7 linked regions of the Homo sapiens genome follow. The protein of the gene in region 2 interacts with the protein of the main gene of each other region in a biochemical or structural test. Each region holds a gene or a part of one and is shown on either strand. Other genes may lie near its edges. The genes, in order: NHERF1, FZD4, FRMPD3, SHANK1, RAPGEF6, MAST2 and CARD11.

What was found.
Region 1: the proteins of FZD4 (region 2) and NHERF1 interact in far-western blotting, tested with the Homo sapiens proteins (one study listed by IntAct).
Region 3: the proteins of FZD4 (region 2) and FRMPD3 interact in a test that uses a peptide from one of them, tested with the Homo sapiens proteins (one large-scale study listed by IntAct).
Region 4: the proteins of FZD4 (region 2) and SHANK1 interact in a test that uses a peptide from one of them, tested with the Homo sapiens proteins (one large-scale study listed by IntAct).
Region 5: the proteins of FZD4 (region 2) and RAPGEF6 interact in a test that uses a peptide from one of them, tested with the Homo sapiens proteins (one large-scale study listed by IntAct).
Region 6: the proteins of FZD4 (region 2) and MAST2 interact in a test that uses a peptide from one of them, tested with the Homo sapiens proteins (one large-scale study listed by IntAct).
Region 7: the proteins of FZD4 (region 2) and CARD11 interact in a test that uses a peptide from one of them, tested with the Homo sapiens proteins (one large-scale study listed by IntAct).

Annotation. Positions count from the first base shown.
Region 1 is NC_000017.11:74,762,128-74,765,627, reverse strand, and holds part of NHERF1 (Na(+)/H(+) exchange regulatory cofactor NHE-RF1), read right to left. Parts: coding exon 3,455-3,500; intron 2,262-3,454; coding exon 2,108-2,261; intron 1-2,107. UniProt on the Homo sapiens protein: Scaffold protein that connects plasma membrane proteins with members of the ezrin/moesin/radixin family and thereby helps to link them to the actin cytoskeleton and to regulate their surface expression. Necessary for recycling of internalized ADRB2.
Region 2 is NC_000011.10:86,945,396-86,948,895, reverse strand, and holds the end of FZD4 (frizzled-4 precursor), read left to right. Parts: 3' UTR 1-3,217; downstream 3,218-3,500. UniProt on the Homo sapiens protein: Receptor for Wnt proteins.
Region 3 is NC_000023.11:107,452,652-107,456,151, reverse strand, and holds part of FRMPD3 (FERM and PDZ domain-containing protein 3), read right to left. Parts: intron 1-3,500.
Region 4 is NC_000019.10:50,660,803-50,664,302, forward strand, and holds part of SHANK1 (SH3 and multiple ankyrin repeat domains protein 1), read right to left. Parts: intron 1,881-3,500; coding exon 1,163-1,880; 3' UTR 1-1,162. UniProt on the Homo sapiens protein: Seems to be an adapter protein in the postsynaptic density (PSD) of excitatory synapses that interconnects receptors of the postsynaptic membrane including NMDA-type and metabotropic glutamate receptors via complexes with GKAP/PSD-95 and Homer, respectively, and the actin-based cytoskeleton.
Region 5 is NC_000005.10:131,429,230-131,432,729, forward strand, and holds part of RAPGEF6 (rap guanine nucleotide exchange factor 6), read right to left. Parts: intron 2,121-3,500; coding exon 1,630-2,120; intron 1-1,629. UniProt on the Homo sapiens protein: Guanine nucleotide exchange factor (GEF) for Rap1A, Rap2A and M-Ras GTPases. Does not interact with cAMP.
Region 6 is NC_000001.11:46,027,112-46,030,611, forward strand, and holds part of MAST2 (microtubule-associated serine/threonine-protein kinase 2), read left to right. Parts: intron 1-619; coding exon 620-752; intron 753-1,656; coding exon 1,657-1,822; intron 1,823-2,354; coding exon 2,355-2,456; intron 2,457-2,719; coding exon 2,720-2,842; intron 2,843-3,017; coding exon 3,018-3,127; intron 3,128-3,495; coding exon 3,496-3,500. UniProt on the Homo sapiens protein: Appears to link the dystrophin/utrophin network with microtubule filaments via the syntrophins. Phosphorylation of DMD or UTRN may modulate their affinities for associated proteins. Functions in a multi-protein complex in spermatid maturation.
Region 7 is NC_000007.14:2,939,368-2,942,867, reverse strand, and holds part of CARD11 (caspase recruitment domain-containing protein 11), read left to right. Parts: intron 1-2,939; coding exon 2,940-3,119; intron 3,120-3,500. UniProt on the Homo sapiens protein: Adapter protein that plays a key role in adaptive immune response by transducing the activation of NF-kappa-B downstream of T-cell receptor (TCR) and B-cell receptor (BCR) engagement.

The sequences.
Region 1 (3,500 bases), on a different chromosome or scaffold from region 2:
GTGAGCCAAGATTGTGCCATTGCACTCTAGCCTGGGTGACAGAGACTGTGTCCGGAAAAAAAAAAAAAAAGGCCAGGCGCGGTGGCTCACACTTGTAATCGCAGTACTTTGGGAGGCCGAGGTGGGCGGATCACAAGGTCAAGAGATCGAGACCATCCTGGCCAACATAGTGAAACCCCATCTCTACTAAAAATATAAAAATTTGCTGGGCGTGGTGGCGCATGGCTGTAGTCCCGGCTACTCAGGAGACTGAGGCAGAAGAATCACTTGAATCTAGGGGCAGATGTTGCTGTGAGCCGAGATCGCACCACTGCACTCCAGCCTGGGTGACAGAGCAGGACTCCATCTCAAAAAAAAGAAAAAGAAAAAGAAAAAAAGAGAAAATAATCCCAACTCCTATTTGCCAATCAGGAAATGAGGGGGGACGAGAAGGCTCAAGGGGTGTGTCCTGGGTATCCCCTCCCCCAGCCAGTGGGAAACCTGGAGGGGTCAGAGGGAGAGAAGACAGGTCTGGGGTCACCTTCACTGGGCTCACTCAGGGTAGGGGTCCCACATGGCTTCAGGGGTGGCTGTTCCATCTCCAGGGACTGGTCAGTGTAGGGCTTCTTCTGAACTCTTAGCTTAAAATTCCTGGTTATCTTTTCCCTGTCCCCAGTCCAGGACACAGCCAGAGATACCTGACTCTCATCTTCTCCTCCCTTTTGACACCCACAGCCTTCCCCGGGCAAGGACAGGCTGCTGGGACACAGGGTCACTCACTGTCCCCTCCCCATCAGCTCACAGTGGTCAGGGTGAAACCCTGGCAGCCGGAGAGGGGGGCATTCCTCCCTATGGAAAGGGTGAGGATGCCATCCTGGAGGGACTGCGGGGAGGGGACTGTCCCCAGGCCTCTCCCTCTTCAGGTCCTTTGGCCAGAGGCTGCAGCCCCTCTAGCCCGAGAGACAGGCAGAAGAGGGAGGAATGTCTGAGGGGGCCAATTACCTGCAGGGTGAAGGGGTGGGGGAAGCAGGGGACAGTATCCCAGGAGCTGAGTGGAATCCAGATTCCAGCTGTGTCTTCCTCGTATCAGATCCCTAGGAGGAAGGCTGGGGCTTCTCTGGGCCTTAGTCTCCCCCTCAGTGGAGAAGGGGATTATCTGAGTTACCTGGTTTCCATGAACTTGGGAGATAAGGGTAAGGCGGTACCCCACCTCCCATGCCCAGAGCCAGCTAGGGACTTCCAGGGGCCATCCCCTCTTCTAGGAGCCTCAGGCCTTGGATTGCGCCAGAAGGGGACAGGGCCTCCCCAGTGGGCCCTTGCAGCTGGCGATGGGAGTCGCAGGACCTTTGTGTGAATCTCCTTTTACACATACAACCTTGAGTCTCCAGGAGGCCCCACCCACTGCAAAGTCCCAAGAGGTTCCACCCTCAGTATGGCCCAGTGAGCACCCCTGCCCGCTCCAGGGAGCCATCTTCCCAGGGAGAAAGTCCAGACCAAGGAGCAGAGCATGCTTAACCCCTCCCTGCCCCGGTGCAGCAGCCCTGCCCTGTTTGGCTCGGGCCTGGGCAGGGGGAGGCGCCAGGCTTGGCAGGGTGATGGTGGGGGATGGGGAGGGCAGGGGCCCAGGGATTGAAGGGGGACCCACTACTCTCTAGAGCCAGCAAGGCTGAGTTTCCAAGACAACCTGAGAGGAGGGAGGGGGAGGCACCGGCCCCCGTCACTGGACTCTGATCTGACCAAGCAAAGGCTGGAGGCCTCCCCGGAGTTAACCCTTTCCTCACATTGACACTGCCCTGAAAGTCTGCTGGTGGGGACAGGACTGGGGGCTTGGGCCTCCTTTGGGGCTGCAGCTTTGGCCGGGAATAAGAAGATCTGTCCATCTCTCTCACCGACCTCATGCCAGCTGACCCCATCACAAGCCGTCCTCAGAAACCCACTGCCACTCCCTACACTAGGCCCCCGCTCCCCCAGCCCACACCTCTGGGCCTCCCATGAAGGAGGAGGAGGGAGCACCCATGCCGGGAAGCTGCCCACCCCTCGCCTGGGACCCAGCAGTCTTAGCCCTGGCTCACATCCCTGACTTGGGGGGCTCCAGCCCCAGGACGGCCAGTGGCCCCACCTGGCTTACCATTCAGGTGCTCCTGAGATGGGATCACTCTGCATTTCTTGAAGAACTCGTCAGTTTCCCTGTCCACCACCAGCAGCTTGGTCTCGTCCCCGCCAGCCCTGATGGCGGACACCACGTCCCCATGCTGCTTCCCCTCCATGCAGACCCCGTTCACCTGCAGGGCAGGGTCGGGGAGGCGTTACGGACACAGGCCTTGGTTCTGGGGCAGGTAAGTGGAGGGGGGTTGGGGGCAGGGGTGACCACCTTGGTTCTCAGCCAGTTTGCAGTTCACAACCTGGGGATACTGACCCCCGCCATTTCTGCAGAGTCCTGAACTAGGCTGGGGGTCCTCCCATTGACAGTCAGCTGGGGAGGCAGGATACATGGGAAGGGCCAACGAAAATATCCAGACGAGACTAAACAAACACAGCTGGGAGAGATGGGATGGGAGCGAGCTGGGAGGCCGGGGTGGGGCCCAGCCTGGGTAAGGACTTGCTGTCCGACTTCCTTCTCTGGGCCTTGGTTTTCTCACGTGTAAAATGAGAAGTCTTGGGAGAGCTGATCTCTAGCTCTAAGGTTCTAAGACTGTGATTCTGGGACCTGCCTGAGCATTTGGTTCACGTTTCCTCTCCCAGGAGCACAGCACCAGAGCCCTGAATGCACGAGTCTAAAAGCCTAACTCGGGGCCGGGTGAGGTGGCTCACGCCTGGAATCCCAGCACTTTGGGAGGCCGAGGCGGGCAGATCACTTGAGGTCAGGAGTTTGAGACCAGCCTGGCCAACATGGTGAAATCCTGTCTCTACTAAAAATGCAAACATTAGCCAGGCGTGGTGGTGGGCACCTGTAATCCCAGCTACTCAGGAGGCTGAGGCAGGAGAATCGCTTGAACCCAGGAGGCGGAGGTTGCAGTGAGCTGGGATTGTGCCACTGCACTCCCCCAGCCTGGGCAACAAAGCGAGACTCCATTTAAAAAAAAAAAAACTAAATAAATAAAGGCCTAACTCAGGAGAGGGGTTTTGTTACTGCCACCCCACTCTGTGTGCCTGGCAGCAGGGAAGCTCTGGAGATGGCCCCAGACATCTCCCTGATCGATGGGTGAATCACAGGCTGCCCACTGTATCTGCTTGGCAAGGAGGAGTCCAGGGGAGTGGAGGTAAGAGAAGAGTCCATCAGTCAGTCCATCTGTCCTTCCGTCTATCCATCCACCACCCTTCCCTCCCTCCCTCCCATCCACCCATCCATCCAGCAGCTCCAGGTTGGCTATGCCCGTGGGCTAATCAAGCCCATGATGGTATGATGGCTGCCCCAGGTGCTGCTGATCTGCAGGGGGTGGGGGCAGTCAGATAGGAAGAGAGCGAGAAGCATCACCTCCACAATGCGATCCTGGGCCCGGAGCCCTGAAGCCTCAGCCGGG
Region 2 (3,500 bases):
CTCTGGCCCAGGCAGGGGAAGGAAGACCAGGCGGTAGGGGACTGGTCTTGCTGTTAGAGTATAGAGGTTTGTAATGCAGTTTTCTTCATAATGTGTCAGTGATTGTGTGACCAAGGCAGCATCTAGCAGAAAGCCAGGCATGGAGTAGGTGATCGATACTTGTCAATGACTAAATAATAACAATAAAAGAGCACTTGGGTGAATCTGGGCACCTGATTTCTGAGTTTTGAGTTCTGGAGCTAGTGTTTTGACAATGCTTTGGGTTTTGACATGCCTTTTCCACAAATCTCTTGCCTTTTCAGGGCAAAGTGTATTTGATCAGAAGTGGCCATTTGGATTAGTAGCCTTAGCAATGCTACAGGGTTATAGGCCTCTCCTTTCACATTCCAGACAATGGAGAGTGTTTATGGTTTCAGGAAAAGAACTTTGTGGCTGAGGGGTCAGTTACCAGTGACCTTCAATCAACTCCATCACTTCTTAAATCGGTATTTGTTAAAAAAATCAGTTATTTTATTTATTGAGTGCCGACTGTAGTAAAGCCCTGAAATAGATAATCTCTGTTCTTCTAACTGATCTAGGATGGGGACGCACCCAGGTCTGCTGAACTTTACTGTTCCTCTGGGAAAGGAGCAGGGACCTCTGGAATTCCCATCTGTTTCACTGTCTCCATTCCATAAATCTCTTCCTGTGTGAGCCACCACACCCAGCCTGGGTCTCTCTACTTTTAACACATCTCTCATCCCTTTCCCAGGATTCCTTCCAAGTCAGTTACAGGTGGTTTTAACAGAAAGCATCAGCTCTGCTTCGTGACAGTCTCTGGAGAAATCCCTTAGGAAGACTATGAGAGTAGGCCACAAGGACATGGGCCCACACATCTGCTTTGGCTTTGCCGGCAATTCAGGGCTTGGGGTATTCCATGTGACTTGTATAGGTATATTTGAGGACAGCATCTTGCTAGAGAAAAGGTGAGGGTTGTTTTTCTTTCTCTGAAACCTACAGTAAATGGGTATGATTGTAGCTTCCTCAGAAATCCCTTGGCCTCCAGAGATTAAACATGGTGCAATGGCACCTCTGTCCAACCTCCTTTCTGGTAGATTCCTTTCTCCTGCTTCATATAGGCCAAACCTCAGGGCAAGGGAACATGGGGGTAGAGTGGTGCTGGCCAGAACCATCTGCTTGAGCTACTTGGTTGATTCATATCCTCTTTCCTTTATGGAGACCCATTTCCTGATCTCTGAGACTGTTGCTGAACTGGCAACTTACTTGGGCCTGAAACTGGAGAAGGGGTGACATTTTTTTAATTTCAGAGATGCTTTCTGATTTTCCTCTCCCAGGTCACTGTCTCACCTGCACTCTCCAAACTCAGGTTCCGGGAAGCTTGTGTGTCTAGATACTGAATTGAGATTCTGTTCAGCACCTTTTAGCTCTATACTCTCTGGCTCCCCTCATCCTCATGGTCACTGAATTAAATGCTTATTGTATTGAGAACCAAGATGGGACCTGAGGACACAAAGATGAGCTCAACAGTCTCAGCCCTAGAGGAATAGACTCAGGGATTTCACCAGGTCGGTGCAGTATTTGATTTCTGGTGAGGTGACCACAGCTGCAGTTAGGGAAGGGAGCCATTGAGCACAGACTTTGGAAGGAACCTTTTTTTTGTTGTTTGTTTGTTTGTTTGTTTGTTTGTTTGTTTGAGACAGGGTCTTGCTCTGTCACCCAGGCTGGGGCGCAATGGCACGATCTTGGCTCACTGCAACCTCTGCCTCCTGGGTTCAAGTGATTCTCCTGCCACAGCCTCCTGAGGAGCTGGGACTACAGGTGCGTGCTACCACGCCCAGCTACTTCTGTATTTTTAGTAGAGACGGGGTTTCACTGTGTTGGCCAGGCTGGTCTCGAACTCCTGACCTCATGATCTGCCCGCCTCAGCCTCCCAAAGTGCTGGGATTACAAGTGTGAGCCACCACACCTGGCCTGGAAGGAACCTCTTAAAATCAGTTTACGTCTTGTATTTTGTTCTGTGATGGAGGACACTGGAGAGAGTTGCTATTCCAGTCAATCATGTCGAGTCACTGGACTCTGAAAATCCTATTGGTTCCTTTATTTTATTTGAGTTTAGAGTTCCCTTCTGGGTTTGTATTATGTCTGGCAAATGACCTGGGTTATCACTTTTCCTCCAGGGTTAGATCATAGATCTTGGAAACTCCTTAGAGAGCATTTTGCTCCTACCAAGGATCAGATACTGGAGCCCCACATAATAGATTTCATTTCACTCTAGCCTACATAGAGCTTTCTGTTGCTGTCTCTTGCCATGCACTTGTGCGGTGATTACACACTTGACAGTACCAGGAGACAAATGACTTACAGATCCCCCGACATGCCTCTTCCCCTTGGCAAGCTCAGTTGCCCTGATAGTAGCATGTTTCTGTTTCTGATGTACCTTTTTTCTCTTCTTCTTTGCATCAGCCAATTCCCAGAATTTCCCCAGGCAATTTGTAGAGGACCTTTTTGGGGTCCTATATGAGCCATGTCCTCAAAGCTTTTAAACCTCCTTGCTCTCCTACAATATTCAGTACATGACCACTGTCATCCTAGAAGGCTTCTGAAAAGAGGGGCAAGAGCCACTCTGCGCCACAAAGGTTGGGTCCATCTTCTCTCCGAGGTTGTGAAAGTTTTCAAATTGTACTAATAGGCTGGGGCCCTGACTTGGCTGTGGGCTTTGGGAGGGGTAAGCTGCTTTCTAGATCTCTCCCAGTGAGGCATGGAGGTGTTTCTGAATTTTGTCTACCTCACAGGGATGTTGTGAGGCTTGAAAAGGTCAAAAAATGATGGCCCCTTGAGCTCTTTGTAAGAAAGGTAGATGAAATATCGGATGTAATCTGAAAAAAAGATAAAATGTGACTTCCCCTGCTCTGTGCAGCAGTCGGGCTGGATGCTCTGTGGCCTTTCTTGGGTCCTCATGCCACCCCACAGCTCCAGGAACCTTGAAGCCAATCTGGGGGACTTTCAGATGTTTGACAAAGAGGTACCAGGCAAACTTCCTGCTACACATGCCCTGAATGAATTGCTAAATTTCAAAGGAAATGGACCCTGCTTTTAAGGATGTACAAAAGTATGTCTGCATCGATGTCTGTACTGTAAATTTCTAATTTATCACTGTACAAAGAAAACCCCTTGCTATTTAATTTTGTATTAAAGGAAAATAAAGTTTTGTTTGTTAGGTTGTGTGTGACTTGGCATATTTCTGAAAGTATATGACAGCCACTAGGAAGCATATACACCCAGCAGTGAGAAATAGAGGATTCAGTTTGTAGGGCAGATTGGGAACTGCTTTCTGAGGGCCTCTTTCTTTTTTGCTGGGGCTCTTTTTCCCCTGTGGGATTTCTCCTGCGTCAGCAAACCCCCACAGTCTAAGGTCAACAGAATTGATTGCTAATATGGTCATCAGTAACACTCAAGTAGGTCACATGATGCTTTGGATATAACTATAGTTCTCAAGTTGT
Region 3 (3,500 bases), on a different chromosome or scaffold from region 2:
TTTGAGGCTACAGTGAGCCATGATCATGCCACTGTACTCATCTGGGCAACGGAGTGAGACCCTGTCTCTAAAAATAATAATAATAATAATAATAGTCATCCACTATACCCACTCTATCTTCCTAGCCTTATCTTCCATTCCTGCCCTATTTCTCTATGACACAGCCACCCTACGTACTTGCTCAAGTTTTTTCCAGTCTGAACTTCATCCCTTCACTTATTCATGAAGTCATTCATTTGAGTAGTCAACAAATATTTATTAAGTATCTCTTCTATGCACTAGGCACTGTAAATTCAAAGATGACTGAGAAGGAGAAGGACAGGAAGCCTCCTTCATCTTTTGTATTATCCACAGCAACTAGCACAGTGCCTTGTACATAATTGGTGCTCAATAAATGTTTTATGAACTAATGTGCAGGGGGAGATGCGATAGAATCCCTGTCTAATATGAATCAACAAGTATTTGGTCCAATTCAACATATGCCTATTGAGTACCTACTGTGTATTAGGCACATATGCTATGGGGATTTAAAAAAATTAAAAAAAAAGATGTACTTGCCAAATGTATTTTTATTTATTTATTTATTTAGAGACAGGGTCTCACTCTGTCACCCAGGCTGGAGTGCACTGGTGCGACCACAGCTCACTGCAGTCTCGACCTCCCGTGTTCAAGCCATCCTCCCGCCTCAGCCTCTCTGTAGTCCCGAGTAGCTGAGATAACAGGTATGCACCACCATACCCAGCTAATGTTTTAGTTTTTTGTAGAAATAGGGTCTCGCTATGTTGCAAGGGCTGGTTTCAAACTCCTGGGCTCAAGCTGTCCTCCCACCTCAGCCTCCCAAAGTGTTAGGATTACAGGCCTGAGCCACCACACCCAGCCCCAAATGTATTTTAGAGACGGAGGAGTTGAGAGGAGAGAGAGATCACTTTAGTCTAAAATGATCAGAGAAGATTTCACAGAGGAGGTGAATTTGAATGTAGAGCTGAAGGATAGGTATAGTGATATGGAATAGGAGAGAAGCATAGGCAGAAAGGAAAGGGCATTCCTGGTGAGTGAAATGGAATGAACAAAAACATAGAGGCAAAAAAAATGTACAAGGTACGTTTAGGAGATCCTGGGGTAAGAAACTTGGCTGGAGTAGAAGGGTCCATGTAGGGCTTTGTTTCACAAGTAGATCAAGTGTATCAAAATCACTTGGGGAGCTTGTTAAAATGCATATTCCTGGACTCCAGCTTCCAGACCTACTGAATCAGAAGCTCAGGAGGTAGGACTCAGGAATCTGCATTATAACAAGTTCCCTCAAGCAATTTTAAGACACATTAAAATTTGAGAATCAATGATGTGGACCAAGCATGAGAAATAGGGTTGGAAGAATATACAGGGTTAGGTCCACACAAGGAGAACTTTGAATGCCAGGCTAAGGAGGCTGAAATTTATCCCACAGGCAATCAGGTATCACCCTCCAAGGATGATGATCAGAAGCATTATGAATAAAGGATATTCCACAACATTAATCTAGCAGTTGTGTGTATTATGGACTGGAAAGGAAAGAGACTAGTGCAGTGTGGCTGTGAGGTGGTGGCAGGAGTCAGGGTGGACTGGGGCATAGGGGATGAGTCAGAGATGGCTTTGAGGTTTCTAGACTGGGAGACAAGAAGCCTTATGGTAAAAGAAAGGTGAGAAGAGTGAGTCATCTCTGAGAAATAATGAGATGAGTTTGTGAATACTGAGTCTGAGAGCAAGCTATCCAAGAGGAAATGTTTAGCAAGCAGTTGGAAATATAGGACTGAACCTCAGGAGTGGGGTTAAGTTTGGGCTAGAGAAATGGGAATGGTTGGTAAAGAGGTGAGAAGGGAAGCCATGCATGCCTGTGTGTCCTTGTCAATAAAGAAAGTGGAAAGCAGGAGGAGCTGGAGAACACCCAGATTTGAGGGGTAGTAAGAAGAACTAGCAATAAAAGAGAAAAAAGGAGGGGTCACTTGGCTGGAAGGAGACCCAGATATTAGAACCTAGCAGAGAGTTCTTTCAAAAGCTGCGGGTGGCTAGTAGTGTGGCTAATGGCAAAGTGAATTTGAGGCACAGAGCAAAAACACTGGCTACGGCATGCATGCTGAGAAAGCTGCAAGAGTGCACACACCTGCTCATTCTCATGTTCCTTAACACAAACACACAGAAATAGACACACCTGCTCCTACAGATACACAAGTAGCACCTCTTTCCCTCTCTCTCCTTTCCCCGCCCCACGTTATACACATATTCCCATTTCCAGGCTCATTTTCTGACTACCAGGGATTGGGCACTAGTGTGCCACAGGCTGTTAATGTTCTGTTTTAAGGATGGTGCCTCAGGTCTCAGAAAAGGGTGCTCTGCCTGTCATGGGTGGGAAATAATACAGAACCCCAAGATCACTGTCCTTGCCTTTGGCAGCTCAGCTGAGGGGAGGAAAGGAGGGAAAATGGCATGTTTCTCTGGATTTGCTCCCTACCCTACCCCTTTGCCCCTAGCCCCAGGATTTCTCAGCAGACAATAAGGTCCACCCCATTTTGAGAGTCCTTCATTTTGGCTGCCGATAATGCAAGAGAATGTTTTTGTTTCTGAACTTATGGTAAAAAGGAAAATAGAAGTCCTTGAGAGAAGAGCCAGAACAGAATTTTCTGCTGGGAATGCTAATGGCCTTAAGGCTGCCCCACAAACAGAAGCTGACTTGAGTGTGCTTCCTCCCAGGGGGCCTGTCAAAGCTAAGGGTCTTCATCTAGTATCAATAGGTATCAATTCTAGTCCCCCTAGCAATGATTGCTAGGGCCTATATGTGAAGGCAAGAACCCCCCAAAACCAAGCTTGTCTGCATGAGCCTCTCTTTCCACAATTTGCCCCAGGTATGTGTTGGGGTTTGAGGGTGTGTCTGAGGGGTGTGTGTCTTGTGTGTGATATGTGTGTGTGTATTTGTGTGTATGTGTATGTATGTGTGTCTTATGGCTTCATTCAGTTAGCCTGGAGGTGCCACAAAAACAGGGATCTTTCCTCTGTTGCATTGGTGCTGCCCCTCCAAGTGCCTTATCAGGCATTAGCCACGGAGTCCAATCATTTATGCGTAGTGGGGGAGGGTGGGTACAGAGTGCTTCCGTTGTCCTGCATCCACCCATGCTCCCTCCAAGGGCTGAAGTAAGGATTACTGCGGTGGGGCAATTCCTCTCCTCTACTCATCCCACCCGAGACTCCTCTGTTACCCACCCCCACCCCCATCTCCAGCAAGCCTTTCCCAGCTTGCTGCTATCATCAGCAATCCCAGGGCTTTCTTGTTGCACTTTTTCAATCTACTACTGCTCCTAGAGGATGTCGTTGGTCACAAAATCCCCCAACTGGGCCACACAGCTCACTTCTCAAGACCCTCGGACTGCACCACTTACAAGAGGGAGGGGTCCCCTGACTCATTCCAAATGCAGCTCGCAGCCTCATAGGAGTCCCCAGACCTCTCCTCCAGTGGGGTAGAGGCTCTGTTG
Region 4 (3,500 bases), on a different chromosome or scaffold from region 2:
AAACAGAAAGGGGCAAGGGAGTGGGAGCCTGGCAAAGAAGAAGAGAATGAGCATGTGTGAGAGAAACAGTTTCTGGGAGGCAAGTGTGCAAAAGGCGTGACCAAAAGTGACGGTGCAAAAGGGGCAAGAGGGAAGGCGGGGGGTGGGGGGCTAGGAGTGTCATGGTGAGAGGGGAGAGTTGGGGAGTGGAAGAATCTGGGGTTTTTAAGAATAAGAAGGGAAAGTGCTTCAACGTAAGAAAATGGAGGTAAGAGTGTGTCAGGAGGGGTGCATAAGATAGCAAGTGTGCAAGGGCTGAGCAAAGAGCAGGGCACTCCAGAGAATGAATGATGTGCATGGAGTCTGTGAGGGGGAGGGAAAATGTGTCCCAAGTGTGTCTGCAACAAGGGTCCAGAGCGAGCGGGGAGGAGGAGATGTGAAATGGAGTGTGTAAAGGAGGGCCCTGGTAGGGGAAAAGTGTGTAAGCAGCAAGAAGCAGAGAAGGAGGCATGGAGCGTGAGAAAGGAAATGCAGCGTGTGCGAGGAGAGCAGAGTGTATTTGAGCGGGCCTCGCCAGCCAGAAGCAAAGGCAGAATGTGCAAGACAGCGAGAGGGCAAATTTGTGCAAAATTGCAGCCCGGGGACGGGAGGGGAGAGAGGTGAGCAGGCGTGCAACGGAGCGTGCAAGAGGCTGAGGGGGGCAGCTGTGTGTGCTGGGGAGAGGGGAAGGGGGGAGAGCTGAGGGGCCTGGAGAGAGTGGGAAGGGTTGTTAGAGGGGTGGCAGGTGGTGGAATCCGAGGGCACCCCCTTCCCCTGCGGCCTGGGGGACAGTCCCCATCCAATCGGGCTCAGGGCTGACCCTCTATGGCTCTGTCTATCCCCTCCCCCCAGAATAGGCCCTTCCCTCCTTCTCAATTCCCCTCTGTAATTTCTCCTATCCCCCCTCCGCTCCCCGCTTCACACACACACACACACTCTTGTGTCAGCTGCCCCCCTTCAGTGAGGTGCAAATGTCCGGCCTGGATTGGGCCACCTGGTGACCTCTGGCCTTGGGAGATGAGGGCAGGGCGCAGTTTGAACAGAGTCCCTGGCCCGGGGAGAGAATGACAGTCAGGGGTCAGAGGTCAAGAGGCCAGCAGGCTCAAGAGTTCTGTGGACGGGGCTGGTCCGTCCAGGCCAGCCATCACCTCTCCAGGAAGAATTTGAGAGCCCGGTCGATGTTCATGCGGTGGCCCACCCTGGTCACACCTAGATCGACGTAGTCCTCCTTGGTCAAGGCGGGCAGGTGGGAGCCATCGATCTCGTGGTCCAGGAACTGGGCTCGGTGCTCCGCCAAACCCAGCCACTCCAGCCAATCAGCCACGTCGAACTTGGTCCAGAACCCCAGAGGTTTAGCGCCAAACGGCTTGTCCGGGGGCAGCGAGAGCAGGCGGGTCGGTGAGAGGGAGCGCGAGGCCCCTGACAAGGCTCCCCCGAGCCCCCCGGATATCCCCGGGTGTGGCGGCACAAAGACTGGGGCGAAGGGGTCAGCCGAGCCTCCTGCCCCTCCAGTTGGGGAGCCACGGATGTCAAAGAGGCCTGGGTAGAGGGGTCCGGAAGGCAGGATGGGCAGGGACGAGGGCCTGGGCGCAGGGCTGACCTTGTGCTCCGAGGCGGGCAGCAGCGAGGGGCTGGGGGCCCGGCGGAGCAGAGGGGGCCGCATCTCGAACTCCACGCCCTGGAGGTGGCGGGTGGACGTGGAGGAGGAGGAGGCTGAGGGTGAGGTGGCCCCTGGGGCCGCAGCGGCTGTAGGGGAGACCCCTGTTCCGGTGGGGAGTGGCGGCAGAGGTGGTTTGGGCCAGTTCTGAAACAGGCTGCTGACAGGCTTGGAGAGGAGTGAGGACTGGGAGTCGTCGGAGAGTCTGGAATGTGACAAGGGGGCAGTGGGGGAGGACAGGGATTTAGGGGGCAAGGGCAGGGGTGAGAAAGAGGCAGAGGTCAAGATATAGGGAGAGAGGAGGAGAGACATAAGGGTAGGGGGAGAGACGGAGGAGAGACGGGAAGAAATGGAGGGAGCAAGGGGTAAGACGGCCGGCCGTCGAGGAAAGAAATGAAGGGAGAGAAAGATGAGAGGACAGGGAGAGGGCGACAGTTAAGAGAGATGAAAGAAAAAGAGACATTAAGTGATAATAATAATAATCGTCACCGCTTACTGATGCTCACGTGTGCCAGGCATTGTTCTAAGTGCTTTACATGATTGCATCTCAGTTTAATCCCCACGACAGCCCTGATGCAGGTTACTATTATTATCAGCACAGAGAGGTTAAATAACTTGCCTAAGGACACACAGGAAGTGGCAGAGCCCGGTTATATGGCACCAAAGTCTGAGCTCTTCACCACTATTCTATACTGCCTTTCAGGTTATGGCCAGTCGTAGCAGAGTGAAAGATGGGGAGACAGTGAGAGAGAGACAAAAAGAGGGTGAGCATCCAGGGGAGAGAGATGGAAGGGACAGGGGACACAGAGAGAGAGAGATGAAGAGAGGGAGATGAAAGAGAGAAGAAACAAGGGGAGAAAAAGGTTCCCCTCATCCCTTTCGTTCCCTCCCCTCCAGCACTGTCCCACCTCAGGGCCTTTGAACTGGCTGCTCCCCCTGCCTGGCTCACTCTTGCCCTGGGCAGCTGCTCCCTCTCCACTTTCATTACTCTGCCCACCTTGCCTGTTACATGAGAGACCTTCTCCACCCATCCCATTGTGGTAGCTTTTTTTGTAGGATGGTTGCAATTATTTTGTTTACTGCCCCGCCCCCACTCCTATGTCCCTAGACTATGAGCCCTGTGGAGTTGCACAGTCTTTGCCTGTCCTGTCCAGCAGGGGATCCCATCACCCAGAAGGGCACTCTGCACACATAGGTCATGAGTCAATAATTAATGCAATTGTTGACTGAATTAAGCATCCTTCCTGTTGCTGCTACAAGCAGTGGAAAAAAAAAAAAAGAAAAGAAAAAAAAAATCCTCTTCTCTAACCAGAATACTTAAGAATAGTCAAGGAATTGCATTCAGTTCTTAAAGGCCTAATAAACCCACATTTGTTTGTTTATTTTTACAGCGTAGGAGCATTGATTCAAGTTGCTCTAATAATATACACTTCCTTTTTCTTTTCTTTCTCTCTCTCTCTCTCTTTTTTTTTTTTTTTTTAAGACAGGGTCTCACTTTGTTCCCCAGGCTGCAGTGCCTTGGTGTCATATCAGCTCACTGCAGCCTCAACCTTCCAGGCTCAAGTGATCCACCCACCTCAGCCTCCTGAGTAGCTGGGACTACAGAGGCAGGCCACTGTGCCCAGCCTCCTTTTTCTTTTCTTTCTTTTTTTTTTTTTTTCAACCTGGGAGCATAGATTTAAGTTGCCCCAAATATACACTCCCTGAACCCACATTTGAAGGTCAGACACATTTGGATAGCAGACCTTCAAACAGAATTCAAGTGAACTCTGTAGATGGACAAGGATATTTAAAACCTGCTCCCAACCCTCTGTGTATCTGAAGC
Region 5 (3,500 bases), on a different chromosome or scaffold from region 2:
TAAGCAATGAAAATGTTAATGAAAAAGAAATGGAAAAAAAAAGAAACCACCCCACAAACTTATTACAATGACAAAATACAACTTAAAAATAGACAAAATGAATAAACTTGAATGATGGCAGATCAAAAACATTTTTTAAAAGTTTAATAAACAAACCTCTTTTTAAAATACATAAACAACTATATTAAGTCCTGTAAACATTAAATAGAACGAGAGAGTTGAAGGAGATGACACTGATGACAAGCTTCCTTCTGCAATTCAGCCCCCATATCACAGAAGTACATGACAACTCCTGAAGTCACACCAGCCCTAAAGATATCAGAAACATTTAAAAGTTCACCCTACACACCGATTCTCTGTAAACTGGGAGACTTTACATAGAAATGACATTTGGGCCATCTGTTTAAGGGCTGTTTCACCTTCTCTCTGAGACATGAACCAATGTTTTCTGGCACTCCTGGGCAGATTAGTTCTCAGTCCTAGCATATAAACTTTAACTTTGCTGGTACGGAGGAACTAATTCCTTCAAGAACTTTACTTCTGGCCAGGTGCGGTGGTTCACGCCTGTAATCCCAGCACTTTGGAGGCCGAAGTGGGTGGATCACCTGAGGTGAGAAGTTTGAGACCAGCCTGGCCAACATGAAGCCCCATCTCTACTAAAAATAAAAAAATTAGCTGGGCATGGTGGCAGGCACCTGTAATCCCAGCTACTTGGGAGGCTGAGAGAGGAGAATTGCTTGAACCTGGCAGGCGAAGGTTGCAGTGAGCCGAGGTCATGCCACTGCACTCCAGCCTGGGCAATACAGCAAGAGTCCATCTCAAAAAAAAAAAAAAAAGTTGGAAAAAAATGAATGAGCTAAAAACCCAACCTATAATGCAATTTGACAAGTAACTATAAAATCAGCACATTTCACCTTCACATTTTTAGTAGTTAAATGCGACACCATGACTGTTGCATAAATTTAACAGTTGATTATGATATTAATTCAAAGTAGAGTCATTCCATATAAGTAGAAAAGCAGTTTTATATCCACGTATTTATATAGTTTAGGAAAGAAATTTTTAAAAAGTATTTGATGGCCAAATACTAAAAAAAAAAGTTTACTAAGAAAGCTTGGAATGGAATTCACAAACAGGAGTTGGCACACTCATGATGTACACCAAGAGAGTATACTGAAAAATGTTCTGGACTTCCTGATTGCATTTTCTCTCACTGTTACGACCTAAAATCAATAGCAGATTCAATGTTTCTACCACGTATGCATACCAATTGTGGTCCAAACAATTTATGAGGTGATAAAGAGAATAATCCCTTTACTACTATTGCACACTAATGCGATGATATTCCTCAATAAAACCAAAAAGAACTTAAAAACAAAAGACAAACAAACTTGTCCCTCTAATTAAATACCTTCACATCAGACTTTTCATTTTAATGGGGTTGAATAGCTGCTCCAAAGTCTTTGAGAAACCATGAATTTTTGGGAAATAACTTGTTTGTTTGTGAAGGAAAGAAAGGTTGTTAGAGAATGAATTTTTGCGACGATAAAATCCAGGGCCAAGATATCCCAATGCCATTTTTTGACTACTTAATCTCTAAATGCCACAGACAACAAAAACACAACTTACCAATCAAGCCCTTTTCTGTACTTGAAGTGACAGTTTTATAAACTGGGTCAGTGGCATCCTTGGGGTCCAAGCCTTCAGATGACTCAGCTGGGGTGCTCTCCAATACTCTCTGTTTAACTGTCCCATAGTTTGGTTCATACGTGTCAGACAGAGAACTGGAGGAGGTCCAACTCTTTCTCTCTAGGCTTCCTTTACACTGCCCACAAGTTCTAGAGCAGCTTTTAGAACAGGAATAGGGCTCAGAGTCAGTGGGTTCAACTTCAGCAATGGGGTCATCCAAATGGGTATGTCTGTAAGAGTTCAAAAAATCCCAGCTTTTTGGGTTTGGAAGGCTTTGGAAGTTGTCATGGGAGCTGCTTGAACACGAAGTCCAACTTCCACGACCACTGTCAGCTGCTTCTATAATGATATGCTCTTGAGAAATCTCTTCATTGCTCACAGACGATGAGACAGCTAAACACTTGATTAGAGATGGCTTCAAGAGTGTCCACCTAAAATTGGAGATAACGTACAATTAGAAGGCTTGCCAGAAAAACTATCTTCTCTCTGTTTCAAGTTATTATTGCCTGTGAGAAACTACAGAGCACGTACCACAAGTGTTCATGCCAAATAACATCGTGAGGAAAACAATATTATCATCATTCATCACTATATTCCTTGTAAGTATTTAGTTAACACTCAGAAGACACAGTAAAGAAACTCTAATGCTTAGCAAAATTTCCTTAGAATTTTTCTTTTTAAATTTTAAAATGTTAGATATTTTTTTTTTTTTCGAGACAGGGTGTCACTCTGTTGCCCAGACCAGAGTGCAGTGGTTATTTACAGGCACGATCATGATGCACTGCAGCTTTTAACTCCTGGGCTCAAGTGATCCTCCCGCCTCAGCCTCCCCAGCAGCTGGGATGGACCAGAGGTATGCCTGGCAAGTATTTTTCTTGAACTGATTTTAAATGAAAATGTAAAGATGAGAGTTGAAATGAATAAGGTTAAGTATACATATTCATTTTTGGTCATCACAATATTAGACTACTGCGTCCATGCATACAGAATTAAGAGTTCCCAACTTGAAGAATCATGTTTTATTTTTCAACGTACCTCTGAGGTTAGCCCAGTACAGTGCCAAGTAAACAGCAACTTCCCCAATTACCCATGAAATGAATAATTTATAGCAGGGGTCCCCAAACTAAAGCTCATGGGCCAAATTTAGCCAACAGCCTATTTTTGTATGGTCTGGAGCAAAGAATAGTTCTGTTTTTTAACCTTTTAAAAGGTTAAAAAAGAAAAGAAAACAAAACCAAACCAGAAGAATTTGTGACAGAGACTATATGTAGATTGCAGAGGCGAAAATATTTACTACCCAGCCCTTCACAAAAAAAAGTTTGTAAACCCCTCATTTACAGTATAGTGCAGGGGGTAGCAAACTACAGCCCAGGGCCAAATCTGGTGGTCTCTTTGCTCGTTTTTGTAAATAAAGTTTTGGCTGGGCGTGGTGGCTCACGCCTGTAATCCCAGCACTTTGGGAGGCCGAGGCGGGCGGATCACGAGGTCAGGAGATCGAGACCATCCTGGCTAACATGGTGAAACCCTGTCTCTACTAAAAATACAAAAAATTAGCCGGGCGTGGTGGTGGGCGCCTGTAGTCCCAGCTACTCGGGAGGCTGAGGCAGGAGAACAGCGTGAACCCAGGAGGCGGAGCTTGCAGTGAGCCGAGATCGCGCCAGTGCACTCCAGCCTGGGCAACAAGAGTGACACTCTGTCTCACAGAGCGAGACTCCGCCTTAAAAAAAAAAAAAAGTTTTACTGGGACACAGTCATGCCATTTGTTTATGTGTTGTCTATGGCTATTCTGGTGTAATAGCAGAGTAGTTGTG
Region 6 (3,500 bases), on a different chromosome or scaffold from region 2:
GTTGGGTAGGCCTGGAGCTCAAAAAGGAAGTCAGAGCCAGAGGTACTATTTGGGGAATCATTAGAATAAAAGGGTGGCAGGGTAAAGCCTTCAGCACAAAATGAGTGGCTCAGGCAGAGTATATAAAGGGATCTTAGTTCTAGTTTCTCCCAACTAACCCTCCTCCCAAGACCAGCCATGGACATGGAACAAAATTATGTGTGCCCCCTGCCCCTCTCCCTGAAACAGGAGTATTATGGGCCACTCAGATTGGGAGAGGGGACTAGGAATGGCTCCAGCAGCTGCCTTAGGATGAGGCTGATCTCAGCTCTGTAGAAGAAACTCTGTTCCTCAACTGAATGACTCCTGCCCCCAACATAGAATACAGTTAGGGCAATAAGCAGAAATGGAGTTGTGGGAATGGGCAAAAGGCAGGTTCGTTGCTTGTGCAGAATGCAGCACTCACACAGCCAGAGCGATTTACGTGTCCACACCTGCCTGTCCCCCCAGCTGAAGCTACCCAGCTTGTGTCTCACAGTACCCCCATGGAAGCCTGAGTGGGGAAACTGGGCATATACTAAAATCAGTACTCTCAGAAAACCAGGAATAACTTCTTAATTTTATTTCTTCGTTCTTCCAGCCTCCTAATTACATCCATGGGGCACATCAAGCTCACGGACTTTGGACTGTCCAAAATTGGCCTCATGAGTCTGACAACGAACTTGTATGAGGGTCATATTGAAAAGGATGCCCGGGAATTCCTGGACAAGCAGGTAAGGAAGGGTAGTTGATACACTGGGGGTTAAATTCTAGGCCCTTGTCCTGGCGCAGTGTCTTACGCCCGTAATCCCAACCCTTTGGGAGGCTGAGGCAGGAGGATCGCTTGAGGCCAGCCTGGGCAACATAGTGAGACCCCATCTCTACATTTGTGTACACATACATAGATTCCAGGCCCTAGAATAAGGCCTTGGGGCCATATGCCTACCTTGTAGCTAGATGTTAAGATTGGGAACCCCTATCTTTTCTACCTTTGGGTTCCAGAGAGGCACTGAGATAGGTAGCACATTTGGAAAACAGGATGAGCCTTGAGAATCATATGGATATAAAATCCAAAGTCATCTTCCTCCTCAGGGTTTGGGGAAAATAGGTCATATAACTGTTAGCACAGAGTTTCATATGAGATCAGTCCTGAATCTCCCAGCCTGAATCAAGGGCAAGGCTCTCCTGGAGCCTGAGGTTCTTGGAACACAGCTCTGAATTTCCATTGGGCTGTGGCCCAGTGTCCTGAGAGGCAGCCTCTGGATGTTCCCTGGTTTGACATTTCAGGTTGTGACTGTTCACCGGTCCCTGTAGTTGTTACATGACTGATAGGGTCTGTTTTGTTAGAGGCTGGAGTGCAGAGGCCCATTGTGGGATCACATGCCAGAGGTGGGTGTTGAGGGCTTAAGGGATGGTAGTTCCGGGCTAGAATGAGACATTTTTGTTAATTAGGAAATACCTACTGACAGTTCCGACTCTTGTTCCCTGGGGCTTCTGTTGATCTTGTTCATTAACTAAGGTGGGCTGAGTCTTCATTCAGAGATTCTTCTGCTCGAGATGGGAGCATCCCCCATCTCCGGCTGTCATGCCAGTCAGCAGCCTCAGGAGGCTGAGCCAGCCTGGCTTTTCTGTGCCCAGGTATGCGGGACCCCAGAATACATTGCGCCTGAGGTGATCCTGCGCCAGGGCTATGGGAAGCCAGTGGACTGGTGGGCCATGGGCATTATCCTGTATGAGTTCCTGGTGGGCTGCGTCCCTTTTTTTGGAGATACTCCGGAGGAGCTCTTTGGGCAGGTGATCAGTGGTAGGTACTATGCCCCTGGCCCAGTGGGGAAACAGAGTCTGAATCCACAAATATGATGTATGCAGGCAGCTCGTGAGGCCTGTGAGCTCTTGTTCTGAACTCATCATGTGTGTTTGTGATGTCTGCTGCTTTGGGGATGGGTGTCTCTGTGTTTCTGCATGTACATACATGTGCACACTGTGTCCCTTGGGGCTTCACATGTCTCTCATAGACACCTGGTCTCTCATATACACCTGGGTGTTCCTGTCTGTGTATGTGCACATCCCATAAGTGTGAGGGGTACGTCTGTGTATGTTTTGTGGAGTATAAAAGCAGGGTGAGCTAGAGCTTTGCAGTGCCTGCTGTGGATCAAAGATCAAGCTATGGTCTAGGAACCTATAGAATTTAAGGACTGGGGTCCCAGGCAAGGCTTTCAGGGGCTCCAGGCTGGGTCCTTTTTGCCTCCTTTCCTTTCACTGTTCTGGGACCCTCTTCTGCATCTCTCCACTCTACCCACAATTTCTCCTTTCCCTCTCACCCCTGATGACTTCAGATGAGATTGTGTGGCCTGAGGGTGATGAGGCACTGCCCCCAGACGCCCAGGACCTCACCTCCAAACTGCTCCACCAGAACCCTCTGGAGAGACTTGGCACAGGTAGGGCAGGCCCTGCTAACTTTTCTCACTACTTGGAAAAGGGGTAAGGGAGGCTGAGTCATGTACCCTGGAGGTTCAGGCTTCGGTTACGGGCAGCCCCTCTGGATCCTGAAACTCTGCCCTGCTCTGTAGGCAGAAAAGGGAAGATGCTTGAGCTGATCCCCTAGGTATAGCTTCTGAAGGTCTGGCTTCTTGCTAGATTTGCTGACCTAGACTCCATGCTGCTCATCCTACCCCCTTGCCCATGTCCTCCCTGTCCACAGGCAGTGCCTATGAGGTGAAGCAGCACCCATTCTTTACTGGTCTGGACTGGACAGGACTTCTCCGCCAGAAGGCTGAATTTATTCCTCAGTTGGAGTCAGAGGATGATACTAGCTATTTTGACAGTAAGGCCACCGATGGGTGGGGTGGAGGATGGGTCCTACCTGTTTGCCTAGAAACACCTGTGCACACTGAAATTGCATTGGGAGCAACTTCTCAGGGCTCTGCTGAAATCTAATGGGGTCACAAGGAGGCCACCAGCAGGGCTCTGAAGGAAAGTGTCCTTTATGTCTGGCCCAGCCCGCTCAGAGCGATACCACCACATGGACTCGGAGGATGAGGAAGAAGTGAGTGAGGATGGCTGCCTTGAGATCCGCCAGTTCTCTTCCTGCTCTCCAAGGTTCAACAAGGTGTGACTGAGGAGGCCCAGAATGGGCAGAACAGGCTGGAGGATCAGAAGAAGAGGGCCTGTCAAAGGGCACACCTGGGGCAGGCTCAGGGAGTTGGGGTTGGGGCCACCTCTAGAAAAAGAGGAGCTAAGGGTTGGGGCTACATATAGCTATATATAGGTGCTTCTAGAACCACTGCTGTCCCTGACATGAGATGCCAGGTCAGATCAGTGGAATAACTCCTTCCCCAAATATTCAGCAGGGGTGTGTGAAGGAGGGATGGAACCGACTGGTTCAAATTCCTAGGTTTCCGATGCCAAGGATGCTTTATGCCACTTGGGAGGTACGGCTGCCAGAGCCCATCCCCAGCGCATCCCCTGTGCCCACAGGTGTA
Region 7 (3,500 bases), on a different chromosome or scaffold from region 2:
AAGGAGCCAACCATGCAAGTCTCAGGGGAAAGCACTCGCAAAGCCCATAAGTAGGGGGCATTTTGTTTTTGTTTTTGTTTTTGTTTTTGAAGAAACAGCAGGAAGGCTGAGCTTGATGGCCCACACCTGTAATCCCAGCATTTGGGGAGGCCAAGGCGGGAGGATTGCTTCAGTCCAGGAGTTTGAGACCAGCATGGGCAACATGGCAAAACCCCATCTCTACAAAAATAAGCCAGGCATGGTGGTATGCACCTGTAGTCCCAGCTACTAGGGGTGATAAGGCAGGACGATTACCTGAGCCTGGGAGGTCGAGGCTGCAGTGAGCCATGCCTGTCAAAAGAAAGAACTAGAAGGAAGGAAGGAAGGAAGGAAGGGAGAGAGAGAGAAAGAGAAAGAAAAAGGAAGGAAAAAGACAGGAAGGGAGGGAGGGAAGGAAGGAAGGAAGAAAGGAAGGGAGGAAGGAAGGAAAGGGAGGAAGGGAGGGAGGAAGGAAGGAAGAGGGAGGGAGTAAGGAAGGGGAGGGAGGGAGGAAGGAAGGAAGAGGGAGGAAGGAAGAGGGAGGGAGGGAGGGAGGAAGAGGGAGGGAGGAAGGAAGGAAGGAAGAGAAACAAATGAAAGAGAAAAGAAATGGCAGGAGAGTCAGTGGGGCCAGAGCCAAATAAACAAATGGTGCAGAAGGGAGTGGAAGGGATGGCGGGGTCCAGATCATGGGGGCATGGTAAGAACTTTGGGATTTATTCTAGTTGTGATGAGAACCCTCTGAAGGATTGAGAGCTGAAGAGTGACAATTGATTTATGTCTGAGAAGGATCACTCTGGCTGCTGGATGGAAAATAGACTCACAGAATATTTATTAAGCACCTGCCACGTGTGAGGCACTGTGCTAAGCACTGTGGGAGACATGGGGATAAATAACGTGAGCTGTGCTCAGGTCACTTACAATTTAGTGAAGCAGACAGATCCGTAAACAATCCACCGGGAATTCAGGTGAATTGAGTCAGTGGCATAGCAGGCAATAGTGTTTTGGTTAGAAGCATGAGCTTTGTAAGTCCTGTAGCTTTGAGTTCAAATTCTGGCTTTATGCTTTACGACTTACTTAGCTATTGGCCTCAGTTTCCTCATTTGCAGATGTCAATAATGAAAGTAATACGTGTGCCCTAGGATTGCTGGGATACTGAACCGTAGGTCTTTGGCGGAGCGGCTGACCCTGTAAGCACCCCACAATGCTAGCGCCCCATGCCTGCTCGTGTGGGACCCGGGACTTACCACAGGACACTTGGGTTAAGCTTTGAAGATGCTGAGGAGCTTTTTTTTTTTTTTTTTTTTTTTGCATGAGCAGGAGAGATTTCTATGCTGTTTTTACCTAGGATTTGGGGAAGTTACCCTGTGGCAGAGACTTACAAGTTTCTCTCCCGGAACTTCCTCCTGTGTTATGTTTCCCTGGAGATACATTAATAGTGAGAAAGTGTAAGTAGAATTTGGAAGAACATCTGGCCAGCAGAGTCCCTGGCTGGTTTTCTTGGCCTCGGGCTGCTTCCTGCACGCCCCTTTCTTCATCGTCTCAGGTTAATCACTGGGGTGCAGGAGCTGGTCTTTTCTTGCTAAAGCCACTGCTCTCTACCTGCCAGATTCCTTGAGATGATTCTCCTTCCAAGACTAGATTTGAAAAATGACACTCTCCCCTTTGGTGCCTCCTTTCTTTATAGCCCTCGAATGCAACCTTCTTGTTTGGGATACTTTAGCAAAGCCGATGTGTTTGGGGAGGAACACAGGTTAGTCTCACAGGTTGAAGAAGTCTTCTGCTGGTCCCAGTTCCTGACACTAAACTCTTGAGTGTGAAAATCAGCACATCTCCACTTGTCTCATTTCCAGATGCAATAGCTGCCTCCTCCAGGAAGCTACTCTTTCTGCCACTAAGTCTAGGGAGGTTCTTTAGGGTGGAGATCCTGTGAAATTACAATTCAGTGAATTTCAGGCTGTCTTCTTCTCCTTCTCCTTTTCCTTCTCCTTCTCCTCCTCCTCCTCTTCCTCTCCTCCTCCTCCTTCTTCTCCTCCTTCTTCCTATTATTCTTCTTTCTTCTCCTCCTCCTCTTCCTTCTTCTTCTTTCTTCTTCTCCTTCTCCTTCTTCCCCTTTCTCTTCCTCTTCCTCTCCTCCTTCCTCCTCCTCCTCTCCTCCTCCTCTTCCTTCTTCTCCCCCTCCTCTTCTTCCTCTTTTTCCTCTTCTTCCTCCTCCTCTCCTTCTCCTTCTCATTCCTCCTCTTCCTCTTCTTCTTTCTCTTCCTCTTCTTCTCTTTTCTCTTCTTCCCCTTCCTCTTCTTCTTCCTCTACTTTTCTTCTTCTCCTCCTTCTCCTGTTTTTTCTTCTTTTTCCTCTTCCTCCTCCTCTTCCTCTTCCTTTTTAGCAACAGTGCTATTTATCCAAATAAAATCTTGTGTGAAACCCAGAAGAACAAACCACACAAGCAGAGCTGTTCTGGGATGTGAAGTCAGTGTGGATGCCCAGAACCCCAACTTGTCAACCATCTCCTCCTTCCCCCTGGGTAACCCCTGGATTCCTCAGGGGAATCCTTGAGTTCCGAGGATCAGAATTTGAAACCCATCAGAGAAGGGCGTTGAAGTGGGAAACACCAACTTGGATCTCTTTTATCCCAAAATCCATAACCTGTCCCACCTGACAAAGGTTGAGGGAATTTTCTCTGAGGCCTGTAGCCCCTTTGGAGCTATTCTAAATAGACTAATCAGGAACTCTCCATCAACAGGGTGATGACAGTTTGTTTTACTGGAGAAGGTTTCTTGGAGCCCTTCTCTGCCCGTGGAAGAAGGAGAGAGGGGCATAACTCAGGTTATGCTGCCAGCCCAGTGGGATCGGGGGAAGCGTTGCCTTTTCTGAGTGTTTCTTGCCACCTGCCTTCTCCCCTGGGCACCCTTGGGGTATTTCAGATCGATCAGCTAAAGCACCGGTTGAATAAGATGGAGGAGGAATGTAAGCTGGAGAGAAATCAGTCTCTAAAACTGAAGAATGACATTGAAAATCGGCCCAAGAAGGAGCAGGTTCTGGAACTGGAGCGGGAGAATGAAATGCTGAAGACCAAAAACCAGGAGCTGCAGTCCATCATCCAGGTGAGGGCCTGGGGGCGGGGCCAGCGCGGGCAGTGGGAGGGTGAGGGCTTGGGGTTGGGGGAAACGATGAACCTGCCAGGGTGTGAGTCCCCAAGCCTCACCCATGCTGACTGCAGGATCACAGGCATGCGTGCCATCCTTGGGCACCTTTGTCTCCTCCTCTGTAAAGCGGTGACCCCCACCACCCATTTGTCAGAGATAGGATATCATACTTGGGAAAACATGTGCTTATTTGAAGCACTCCAGGAAAATCACCAACCACGTGGAAATCAATGCCCTGGGCACTGTGGGAAGAGACAAGGACATCTAGGAAACCTACGTGCCCTTAAAGATTCCAAGAAACTCAACTGTAAGCTCCGTGCCTCTTGTTCCAACCTCAAA